Regions from separate parts of the Homo sapiens genome. Here region 1 is linked to region 2. Evidence: fine-mapped expression QTL. A gene starts in region 2. The other region holds a variant in brackets. All regions are shown on one strand. Distances are between the middles of the regions.

Region 1 (5,362 bases), 26 kb before region 2:
GTTTGGGAAACATCCTGTCAAATCCGGGCCACCCACCTGCATCAGGGGATGGGGTGGGATCGTTCTTTAAGCACTCAGGGCTACATTCAACTGCTCTGGTTCCTGGGGGTCGGCGCGGCCCCCACGAGGCCGTACCAGGCGCGAGTGCATACTGCGTGTAGATGTGGCCCCGTGTGTGCACGTGCGGGTGTAACACAGCCTTTCTGGCTGCCTGACCTGGGTCCTGGTGGCCTTGGCACTCAGGGCTTGACCTGCAGCAACCCCCCAAAGTCACAGACCCCCAAGGCTAGGCACTCCTTCCCATGGGGCCTCTGGCTTCCCGAAGGGCAGGTGGGTCATCCTCGTGCCGCTGGTCCCTGAGCCTGCCTTCCACCTGCCTGCCTTGGCTCTACTGTGTGGCTCAGATAGGGCTTGAATACTGTGTGACTCTGAGCAACTAGCTGAGCCTGAACCTCAGTTTCTCCTGGAATAGTGCAGTACAGGAGTAACCATGACCCCAAGGGTGGCTGAGCGTGCGGTGAGGGGACGCGTGTGTGGCTCTTGGCCCTTTGCCCGGCACCCACTGTACGTTCAGTCTGCACGCCGGCCTGGCCCCACCTGTTGAAGCGTGAAGCAACCCAGCACACACAGCCCCTTCCTTCCATGGATGTTTACTTTTCAGGTTAAATTGCCAGAGTGGCCCTAATTGTCGCCAGCAGCCTGGCCTCCTGGGGATCTGCTCCTGTCTCTAGGAGAGAACTAGGGAACTCTTCCAGACTGGATAATACGCTTCTCATAATGAGGACACGCTCAGGGCTGCATCCTGTTCTGTTGGCTAGGGGTCCACTCTGACCTCTGGGTCATCTGTGATCTTTGAGGCGGTTGCGGTCTGGCCAGGGCAGTGCTCACTGATTGTCTGCTCCGGTCGGCTCTTTTGACACTTCAGTGCTCCTCCTGGCTCTGACTCACCCTTGTGACCTGAGGGGCCCGTTTTGCCATTGATACCCCTGGGTGCTGGGTGAGAACTCAGCGTCCCCAGGTTCCTGGCCCAGGGCTTTACCTGCTGCCTTAGCCTGGCCCTTGATTAAATTTGAGGGAAAGGACGTCTTGGGGGAGCAGGCCCAGGATGGAGCGAGGGGCGCGTGGGGCTTGGCTGACCCACTTGCTGGATTAATCTGGAGTTCACGTAGCCCATAGCACCCAGGACCGATGGCTTCAGTGCTACCTCCTGAAAAGCCGCTGCCGGTCCTCCCCACCGCCTCCAGCAGCCTCTCTCTGAGATGGGGCTCTGTTCTGGCAGGATTCTCACTGGGAATCAGACAAAGTTTTCAGGATCCCAGACCTGCTGCAGAGACCCCCAGGAGGCAGCCCACCACCTGAGGTTCTGGGGCTCCCAAGGCTCCTGCTGCCTTGGTGGCAACTTCAGGGTGTCGCCAGACAAGCCTCGAGGGCCACTGGGCTCCGCCTGGTCATCCCGAGCCCGAGATGCCACGTGGTCAGACCTGCCGCAGCCAGTTCCCTGCCTCGGCCAGTCCCCTGCCTCCACTCCTGCCCCTCCACACCCCAGCCCTCCAAAAGCAGCAGACCTGCTGCCCTGGGATGGTTGGAGGTGGAGACCTGGCGCCCCGCTGGATGCACGTCAGACCCCAGGGTGTCAGTGTCCCTGGAGGCCGGTGGTGGTAGGAGGGGAGTCCCGATCACACTAGGGGTGCGGGAAAATCACCAGGGGGTGGCCCGAGTCAGTGTGCAGTGGGCGTGGACACCCACTGTGAACAGTGGACGGGGCTCGGGGGTCCCGGGAGGGGCTGCAGCCCCGAGGACACTCCTGCAGGGCTTAGCAGTGCCAATCCTGGCCCTGCTGCCCACAGGCATGCGGATCCTGGTCACTCTGCTGCTGGATACGCTGCCCATGCTCGGGAACGTCCTTCTGCTGTGCTTCTTCGTCTTCTTCATTTTCGGCATCGTTGGCGTCCAGCTCTGGGCTGGCCTCCTGCGGAACCGCTGCTTCCTGGACAGTGCCTTTGTCAGGTGCCCAGGCCCCACCCCCGTGAGGCCCCTGCCCAGATGGCCCTGCCCACCATGCAGATAACGCACCATGTGGCTCCACCGCCCCACGTGGCTCTGCCCACCGTGCAGTCACCCGCCCCGCCACTGCTGTCCCCGTCATGGCTCCGTCCACCATGCTGTCTCCCGCCCCCACCCCCCATCATGGCTCCGCCCAGCTGGCAGTCACCGCCCCACATGGCTCCGCCCACGGTGCAGTCGCTGCACATATGCCCCACCCCCCACCATGGCTCCGCCCACCGCGCAGTCGCTGCACATATGCCCCACCCCCCACCATGGCTCTGCCCACCACGCAGTCGCTGCACATATGCCCCACCCCCATCATGGCTCCGCCCACCGTGCGGTCGCTGCACATATGCCCCACCCCCATCATGGCTCCACCCACCGTGCGGTCGCTGCACATATGCCCCACCCCCATCATGGCTCCGCCCACCGTGCAGTCGCTGCACATATGCCCCACCCCCCACCATGGCTCCGCCCACCGCGCAGTCGCTGCACATATGCCCCACCCCCATCATGGCTCCGCCCACCGTGCGGTCGCTGCACATATGCCCCACCCCCATCATGGCTCCGCCCACGGTGCGGTCGCTGCACATATGCCCCACCCCCATCATGGCTCCGCCCACCGTGCGGTCGCTGCATATATGCCCCACCCCCATCATGGCTCCACCCACCGTGCGGTCATTGCACATATGTCCCACCCCCAGTGCTGCCACCTCTCAGCCCCCAAGACAGGTTAGTCCCAACACTTCATCCCCTCCCCACACCCCAGAGTCCGTCACACCTTACCCCAGGGTCTCCCCTCGGCCCTTGCTCTG[C/T]AGTCTCTCCTCAGCCCTCACCCCGGGGTCCCCTCAACCCTCACCCCGGGTTCTCCCCTCAATTCTCACCCCCGAGTCTCCCCTCAGCCTTCACCCCAGGGTCCCCTGAGCCCACACCCCGGGGTTCCCTGCCCTCAGCCCTCACCCCTGGATCCTCTCAGCCCTCACCCCAGGGCTGCCTCCTTTCCCTCACCCCAGGCTTCCCTCCCCTCGTCCCTTGCCCTTTGCCCCTCATCCGCTTCCAGGAGTTGCTGAGGTCTGAGCCTGGGTTTCTGGCTCTTGGGTCTCCCTCCCTGTTTGTCTGTGCTGTTCTTTGTTGATTTCTCTGTCCATCCCTGTTCTTTGTGTGTTTGTCTCTGTGGACTTGGGCTGAGGAGAGTGTGGTTTCTGCAGCACCACTGTGTTCTTGACCCTGGTCCTGGCTGTGTCCCCTGATCCGGGTCTTGACCCTCAGTCCTATCATGCCCCCTGACCCTAACCGTGCCTCCCTAACCATGATTAGTCCACTGGCCCTGACCCTGATCACGTCCCTGACCTTGATCACGTCCCTGATCACAATCGTGCCCCCGACTCTGACCGTCCCTGACCCTGATTGTACCTTTTGGCCCTGGCTGTGCCCATCCCCAGGAACAACAACCTGACCTTCCTGCGGCCGTACTACCAGACGGAGGAGGGCGAGGAGAACCCGTTCATCTGCTCCTCACGCCGAGACAACGGCATGCAGAAGTGCTCGCACATCCCCGGCCGCCGCGAGCTGCGCATGCCCTGCACCCTGGGCTGGGAGGCCTACACGCAGCCGCAGGCCGAGGGGGTGGGCGCTGCACGCAACGCCTGCATCAACTGGAACCAGTACTACAACGTGTGCCGCTCGGGTGACTCCAACCCCCACAACGGTGCCATCAACTTCGACAACATCGGCTACGCCTGGATTGCCATCTTCCAGGTGGGCGGCAAGATGGTGGGACGGGGACCCTGGGGCACGGCAGGGGAGCGGGTGCAGGACTCGCCCCCCCCAGCCCAGACCCCAGGGGCACGGGGAGGAGGAGGAGGGGTCGTGCGGGCCCAAGTCAAGCCACTGCCCCCCCAGGTGATCACGCTGGAAGGCTGGGTGGACATCATGTACTACGTCATGGACGCCCACTCATTCTACAACTTCATCTATTTCATCCTGCTCATCATCGTGAGTGTGGGCGGCAGTGTTCGCCATGATGGGCCCTGGTGTTAGCTGGCTGGGGGTGGGGTGGGGTACCTGGGTGGTCATAGGGGCTCCTGTCTGTCTTCCAGCTGAAGGGAGCACACAGGGGAGGGAGGCAGAGCTTGCGGGGGTGGGGAGGTGTGGCTGGGGACCCCAAGAGGCCATGGCATCACCTAGACAGGGTCCAGGCCTGTGGGTGCTGGCTCAGGGCTGAAGAGCCAGGAACACCCTGGGGAGTGCATAGCCTCCCAGCACCGCTTTCCACGGGCGTGTGTGGCCCCAGGTGTGCTCCTTAGCTGGTCCTCTCATAGGCCCCAGTGGGTCCTGGCAGAGTTGGGTTAATCAGGCCGCAGACGTCTGTGGGGTCCTAGGTATACCTAGAGCCACCCTGCGGGGACCTAGTAGGTAACAGAAGCAGACAGACGTCCCCAGCTTGTTCTGAGAGAGCAAGCGAAGCGAACGATTAGAGACTTGCTGCACGCTGGTCCATGCTAAGGAGGAAACGCACCTGGGGTGCTGGGGAGGGGAGAGTGGCCACCGTTGAGAGGGTCATCTCAAGGCCAGATCTGCAGGTAAAGGAGGGGCCGAGCCACATGGAGAAGCAGGAAAGAGGGTTCCAGGTCTTTTGTCCAGATAGGCACAAAGCAGCTACTGTATGCCGTCTGCTCCAGACGTGGGGGCTCAGCACTGAACACCGCAGCAGCCTGCCCATAGCAGGGCACCTCGCCCACTGTGCCTGTGACGCGGCCCCCACTCGAACAGGCAGCGCACAGTAGGGCTCAGTGGCGAATCAGAGACTCGCTCACTCACTGCCACTTACCCGCCCGCCCCCGTCACAGGTGGGCTCCTTCTTCATGATCAACCTGTGCCTGGTGGTGATTGCCACGCAGTTCTCGGAGACGAAGCAGCGGGAGAGTCAGCTGATGCGGGAGCAGCGGGCACGCCACCTGTCCAACGACAGCACGCTGGCCAGCTTCTCCGAGCCTGGCAGCTGCTACGAAGAGCTGCTGAAGTACGTGGGCCACATATTCCGCAAGGTCAAGCGGCGCAGCTTGCGCCTCTACGCCCGCTGGCAGAGCCGCTGGCGCAAGAAGGTGGACCCCAGTGCTGTGCAAGGCCAGGGTCCCGGGCACCGCCAGCGCCGGGCAGGCAGGCACACAGCCTCGGTGCACCACCTGGTCTACCACCACCATCACCACCACCACCACCACTACCATTTCAGCCATGGCAGCCCCCGCAGGCCCGGCCCCGAGCCAGGCGCCTGCGACACCAGGCTGGTCCGAGCTGGCGCGCCCCCCTCGCCACC
Region 2 (5,362 bases):
AGCCTGGGCAGTGGCCTCACCCTGCAGGGCCCAAGGACCACGGCAGCACCTTGGGGTTCCTGCCAGCCCCTGGAAAAGCCAGCAGCATGCCCGACACCAGCAGGGGCTGGTCAGGAGGCAGATTGCAAGCTCAGCTCCACGTGAAGAGACCGAGGGGAGGGAAGGAGGGAGGGAGCTGTCCATCCCTAGAGGTGAGCAAAGAGCTGCAGAACCTCACAGAAGGTGGGCAACCAGCTCCTCCCTTTCCATTGGAAGGAAGTAGGCTCAGAGTTCCCAAGCCTCGGAGTGAGTCAAGACCAAGTGGAGGCCTCTGCGCTGGCGCATGCCCCACTGGGGCCTGGACATTGAGACTGCCCCTGCCCACCCGGACACTCACCCGGAGAAGCAGTGGGCAGCTGTGAGCACCCACTGGGGGCTGAGCAGTGACCCGCCGCACACGTGCACCCTCCGCAGGCGGAGGCTGGCCTGCCATGGCCATGCGCCGGCCGGGGCAGCGTGACCCCCCACGATCCGGCCGCCTGCATCCGAAACCTGCGGCCGGCCACACCCTAAGTCGAAGGAGGAAGGGGTGCCTGGTGGGGATCCCAAGAAACCCACTGCACTTCCTCCATGAAGCCTTCCCTGACCACACCTCCCTGCCTTCTTGGGGACTTTGCTCTTCAGCTCTCTCGTCTGCCAGACTCTCCCCAGAAGCATCGTGGGTGCAGCAGAAATGACGTCTCAGGAGCAGTGAGCGCGCCTGGGGCTCAGGTCGTCCTTTCTAAGCACCATGCTCCACAAACTAACCAGGGCTCCCGGAGGCGGTGGAAAGGCTGCAGAGGGCCCCTAGGCGGCTAGAAAGGGGCTCAGAACGGTGGAGCCCCCGAGAAGGCCCGGGGTGCTGGGGGTGGCTGCCTAGTGGGCCCCGGTTTTCCTTCAGGGGTGGTGGAGATATTCGAAGCTGGATAAAATTCGGGGGGCGGGGGGCAGACAGCACTGTCCAAGGTGCTCGGGGCCTCTGAATTGGACGCTTGATAATGTAACTTTATCTTCTGTAAACTTCACCTCAGTAAGTTAAGAAGAAATTAAGAGGAAGTCAGCTGGAGACCCACTGGCCACACCTGGGTCTGCCTGAGCTGGATAATTGTGCTGGTGATGGAGTGTGGCCACTGGGCTGAATGGAAGGGAAGCTGGGATGTAGACAGACAGAGATGTTTATAGATAGGCAGCGGGTGTGGGGTGGGGCACCGGCTCTCCCACACGGCAAAGCCCCCAGCTGGTTCCAGGGCCACGGTGGGGACGCTGTGGGGAGAAAGTTCGAGGAGGGCCAGGTTGTTTCATGGCCTCAGAGCATCTCCCAAGGTACAGACTGACTACAGTGGTGGTGGGGGAGACAGCCCTGCAGCACACCCCGACCAGCCCCACTCAACCGAGAGATGCGAGCAGAAACCACGGCGACAAACTATGACCTCCCCGGGCCCCCATTGGGACCCCAGGGAAGGAGAGGGTCACCGAGGCCCTCCTGCCAGGCCTTGCCTGCACCCTCCCCCACACCCCACACCTGTCAGAGACGTACCTGGCTGCAAAGTCCTGAGGGACACACCTGTGGGAAAGACGAAGGGCCCAGGATGGAGGGGGCTGCCAAGGAGAGGGGTGTGCGGGCTCCAGAGGCCCCTGCCAGGCCTCAGGGCGGCACTGGGGTGGGGCCTGGTCCTGAGCAGAGGGGCCCGGCCTGGTGAGGCTGGGTCAACTGCTGTCTCACTGGCCCAGGGCTGGGTGGGACAAGCCACAGGCCATAAACGGCAGCTGGAGGCCGGGAGCTTGGCCTCAGGCCTGGGCCTCCTCCCCGCCCTCCAGGTCCTGCTCAGGAAAGAAATCACCAGTGTTCTAGGGCCTGGGACTCCTGGCACCCCCAACTCCCACCCGCACCCCCAACTACCACCCGCCCTGCCAACTCCTGCACCCCCAACTCCCACCCGCACATCCCTCCTGCCTCTCCCCAGCACGGACAGCTGGGCCTCCAGCCAGGGGTGCAGTCTCTTCAGAGGAGACACGGGGCCCCACAGGGTGGGGACTCAGCATGTTTCTCCGTCTCAGACCAGCCCCCAGTTTCACCCCCATCAGGGGTCCAGGCAGGAAGCAGATGCCCCCCCATCCCCACACCCAGGCCAGGTCACCCACCGGGCACAGCCAGGAGCAGCAGGAGGCCACAGGCCCCAAGGGCCATGGTGTCTGCCCACTGTAGGGAGAAGGAGGGCCAGCCTGACCCTTGGACCTGCTGGGCGTGGGGGATAGGGGTGGCCACACACCTGCTGTCAGGCAGGGCGGGAGGACGGAGGAGGAGGCCGGAGCTCCACAGACGGCCCCACCTGTTCCTTCTGCACCTCAGAGAAGGGTCGTCACCTCCATTTATCCCTGTGTGGACGCCACAGCCCTGGCACCAAGTGGCCGGCTCCGTCAAGGGAAAGCGGGGAAGGACAGAAGGCAAAAGTACTTCTCACCTTGTCTCTGCTCCGGGGCCAGGGCTGAGGGAGGGGTGAGTGTTCCTCTGAGTGCCGCCCCCTCCAAAAATTACTCCCTGGTTCCCTCGGGGCACGCCACCCCCTCTCCTTCATCCTCTGGGAGCCCAGTCCTGGGGGTTCTTCAGGAGGGTCCCAACTCAAGGCCCAGCAGCCCTTTGGAGACAGCTCAGGCCCTCGTGACAACCACTCTTTGAGAAGTCCCTGTCCCCACGTCCGGCAGCAGGTCCTGTGCTCGTGCGGCAGATCAGATGGGCACCACTTCACGGCCCAGCCTGGGTTGGCCCTTCCTAACCGTCCTGGCTGCCCCAGCCTGATGACTCAGCTGATTAGGGGCCCTGGGCAGCGCCCGGGACTTTCCTGCCGCCCTCCCCAGATCCAAATCACAGGCCAGGCTGGAGGGTCCAGCTGAGACCTTCTAGGTCAGGGATCCCCTCTTTGATGTGGGGAAACTCAGCCACGGGTTGGGGGGAGTTGCCTGACCACCCACCAGGATGTGGCCTCCCAGGCACAGACGTGGCCGCCTGCACGCCAGCACGTGGGGTAGCCAAGGCTCAGAACTGGAGGTTCAGTGTTTTTCCTGGTGACCAATAAGGACAACACCAGCATGCGGGGCCAGCAGTGCACCCACGGCCGGGCACCCTCCTCCCTCACGGCAGCCGCACACCTGGAGGGGGCGCCTCAGGGGAGGCAGGACAGTCCCACCCCACACAAGGGAGCGGGGTCTGAGCCACGAGTCCCCGGCCCAGGGTGCCCCTAACAGGGCGATGTCACCCAGTGGGGAGGGAGCCTGAGGGGCAGGGTCTTCATGGAACCAGGTCCTCTAGTCCTGACCTCTAGGGCTGTCCCCAGGTCCCCACAGGTGGGGACTTCAGGGCCCTCACCTGTCCCAACTCAATTCACCTGCAGCACTGGGGACCCCGTCTTTCTGCCTGTGCCCCAGCACGCCACTCCCCGCAGAGTGCTCCACACGACCCAGATTGCAGGCCTGCTGGGGAGGAAGAAGCTTCAGGCACCATCCCCTGAGCCCCAGCAGTCCTGTGACATGGTGCCGTTCACCCCCACCATTGGACAGGAGAGCCAACTGAGGAACCGGGAGGGGGGCCTGGCCCTGGTGATTGCCCCCAGCTTGGTGGGGTCTCCTGTTGTCCAGGACCCTGGGAGACCTGGGATTGCTTCTGTCTGCGGTGGCCTGGCCACCTGGGTGCCGTCCCCTCGGTGGGAACCCTGTCCCCCCCACTCGCCCTCCGCCTCACACCCCCCTGTGACGGGGAACCAGGGCCTCCTGCCGGCAGCCACGTGGGTGACCTTGGAGCAGGTGCCCCCGTCCCAGTCAAAACGCAGGTGGCTGCAGCCCTGGCCAGCAGCCTGCCTGCCACGTCCTGAGAGACCCTTCCTGCTGAAGCTGACGCTCACATCTGCCAGTGTCACTGGGCTGAGCTTCACTGAGCTTCCCAGGGATCTTAGATCTAATTTGGGAAGCTCTGGGGCTGGAGCCCGCCCTCCCCCTCCACCCAGTGACCGGCCCCTGCTGTCCACCTTTCCTTACACCGGCAGCCCTGTCCTGAGGGGCCGTCTTGCTTCCCTTCGGGGTCTCATCCCTCCGACTCCCACCCCGCAAAACCTCCAGTGGGCGTGTGGAAGTGCTTCTAGGGGCTCAGTGTTCCCTGGGGGTCACCCCGTGCTGTCTCTGTGATCCCTAGAAGGTGGGATGGGCCAGAGGGAGGAAGAAGGGCCCGAGTTCCAGGTCCATCTTCATTAACAAGACGCTGGGCCTGCAGAACAGGAGCCGAGGGATGGGCCTTCAGGGGCTGCAGAGGCAGAGGTCACGTGGGGCTGGAGAGGGCACTGGGAGTTGAGTCCACCCCTTGTGAGGACAGAGGTCATTTGCAGAGATTCGGGAGACTAAATGCACATCTCTGCATCTAACAGTTGGAAGGAAAGAGTGAATGTTTCTTTAGAGAGTTGTTTTCAACCAGAACAGCCCCGCATTTCATTCCTGAGTGTAATCATGTTCAAATATAAAATGCAAACAAGAGCCCGGGATAAAATGCAACACTCGCCAGACGCAGAGGGCTCACCTATTGATGTAGAGAAAGACCTCAAAATGAATTTGAAAATGTCAAACTCAGGCCGGGTGCGGTGGCTCACGCCTGTCATCCCAGCACTTTGGGAGGCCGAGGCGGGCGGATCACTTGAGGTCAGGAGTTCGAGACCAGACTGGCCAACATGGCGAAACCCCATCTCTACTGAAAATACAAAAATTAACTGGGCGTGGTGGCTCACTCCTGTGGCCCAGCTATATGGGAGGCCAAGATGGGAGGATCGCTTGAGCCCAGGAGTTAAGGCTGCAGTGAGCCCTGATCACACCACTGCACTTCAGCCTGGATGACACAGCGAGATCCCGTCTCAAAGCAAACAACTAGGCAAAGCACAAGCAGTGGACGGAGGGGCCGGGAGAAGAGCTCGTGGGAAGCGTGGGGTAGGGGCTCGTGATGGGCAGCCCTGGGGCTCCCGGTGACCATTCTCTGTCTTGACCCGGTTGCAGGGACCTGGCTGTCCTTTATAATCAACTGAGTTGCCCGAGTGGCTCTGTGTGACCCGAATGCTGGATGCATCGTGTGGGGAGAAGCCAGCCTCGGGGACCAGGGCTGCCCAGGAGGCCCCGTCCCACGGTGACTGGCTGTGCCTTGAGGGCTAGGACCTCACACTGTGGCAGGTGTCCTCAGCACACCTGGACCCCTTCTCTCCCAGTGACATCCACAACCAGAAACACAGCGATGCACACCAGTGATTTCCATGCACTTTAATGAGGTCCAGCACTCAGGAGGATTAGCGCCCACCACCAGCTGCCTGGGCAGGGG

Evidence for each region. PIP is the estimated chance that this variant, and not a neighbour inherited with it, causes the effect.
Region 1: its variant is fine-mapped to the expression of TPSG1 in sun-exposed skin (GTEx, PIP 0.91).

What each region holds. Positions count from the first base shown.
Region 1 is chr16:1,196,768-1,202,129 of GRCh38, forward strand. It overlaps CACNA1H (calcium voltage-gated channel subunit alpha1 H), which reads left to right. Exons shown (of 35, transcript NM_021098.3): 6 at 1,848-2,007; 7 at 3,489-3,804; 8 at 3,949-4,041; 9 at 4,896-5,362. It overlaps LOC124903623 (a long non-coding RNA gene), which reads right to left and starts at 4,944. Exons shown (of 3, transcript XR_007064938.1): 1 at 4,877-4,944; 2 at 4,565-4,622; 3 at 4,039-4,454. RefSeq lists enhancers at 1,252-1,811, 1,812-2,369. The variant C/T (reference allele first, on the strand shown) is at 2,862.
Region 2 is chr16:1,223,047-1,228,408 of GRCh38, forward strand. It overlaps TPSG1 (tryptase gamma 1), which reads right to left and starts at 2,222. Exons shown (of 6, transcript NM_012467.4): 1 at 2,161-2,222; 2 at 1,556-1,582; 3 at 377-548. The coding sequence starts at 2,206. It overlaps LOC124903621, which reads left to right and starts at 2,205. Exons shown (of 2, transcript XM_047434997.1): 1 at 2,205-2,515; 2 at 3,408-4,194. The coding sequence starts at 2,205. The coding sequence ends at 4,194. It overlaps TPSB2 (tryptase beta 2), which reads right to left. Exons shown (of 6, transcript NM_024164.6): 6 at 5,290-5,362. RefSeq lists a silencer at 1,074-1,260.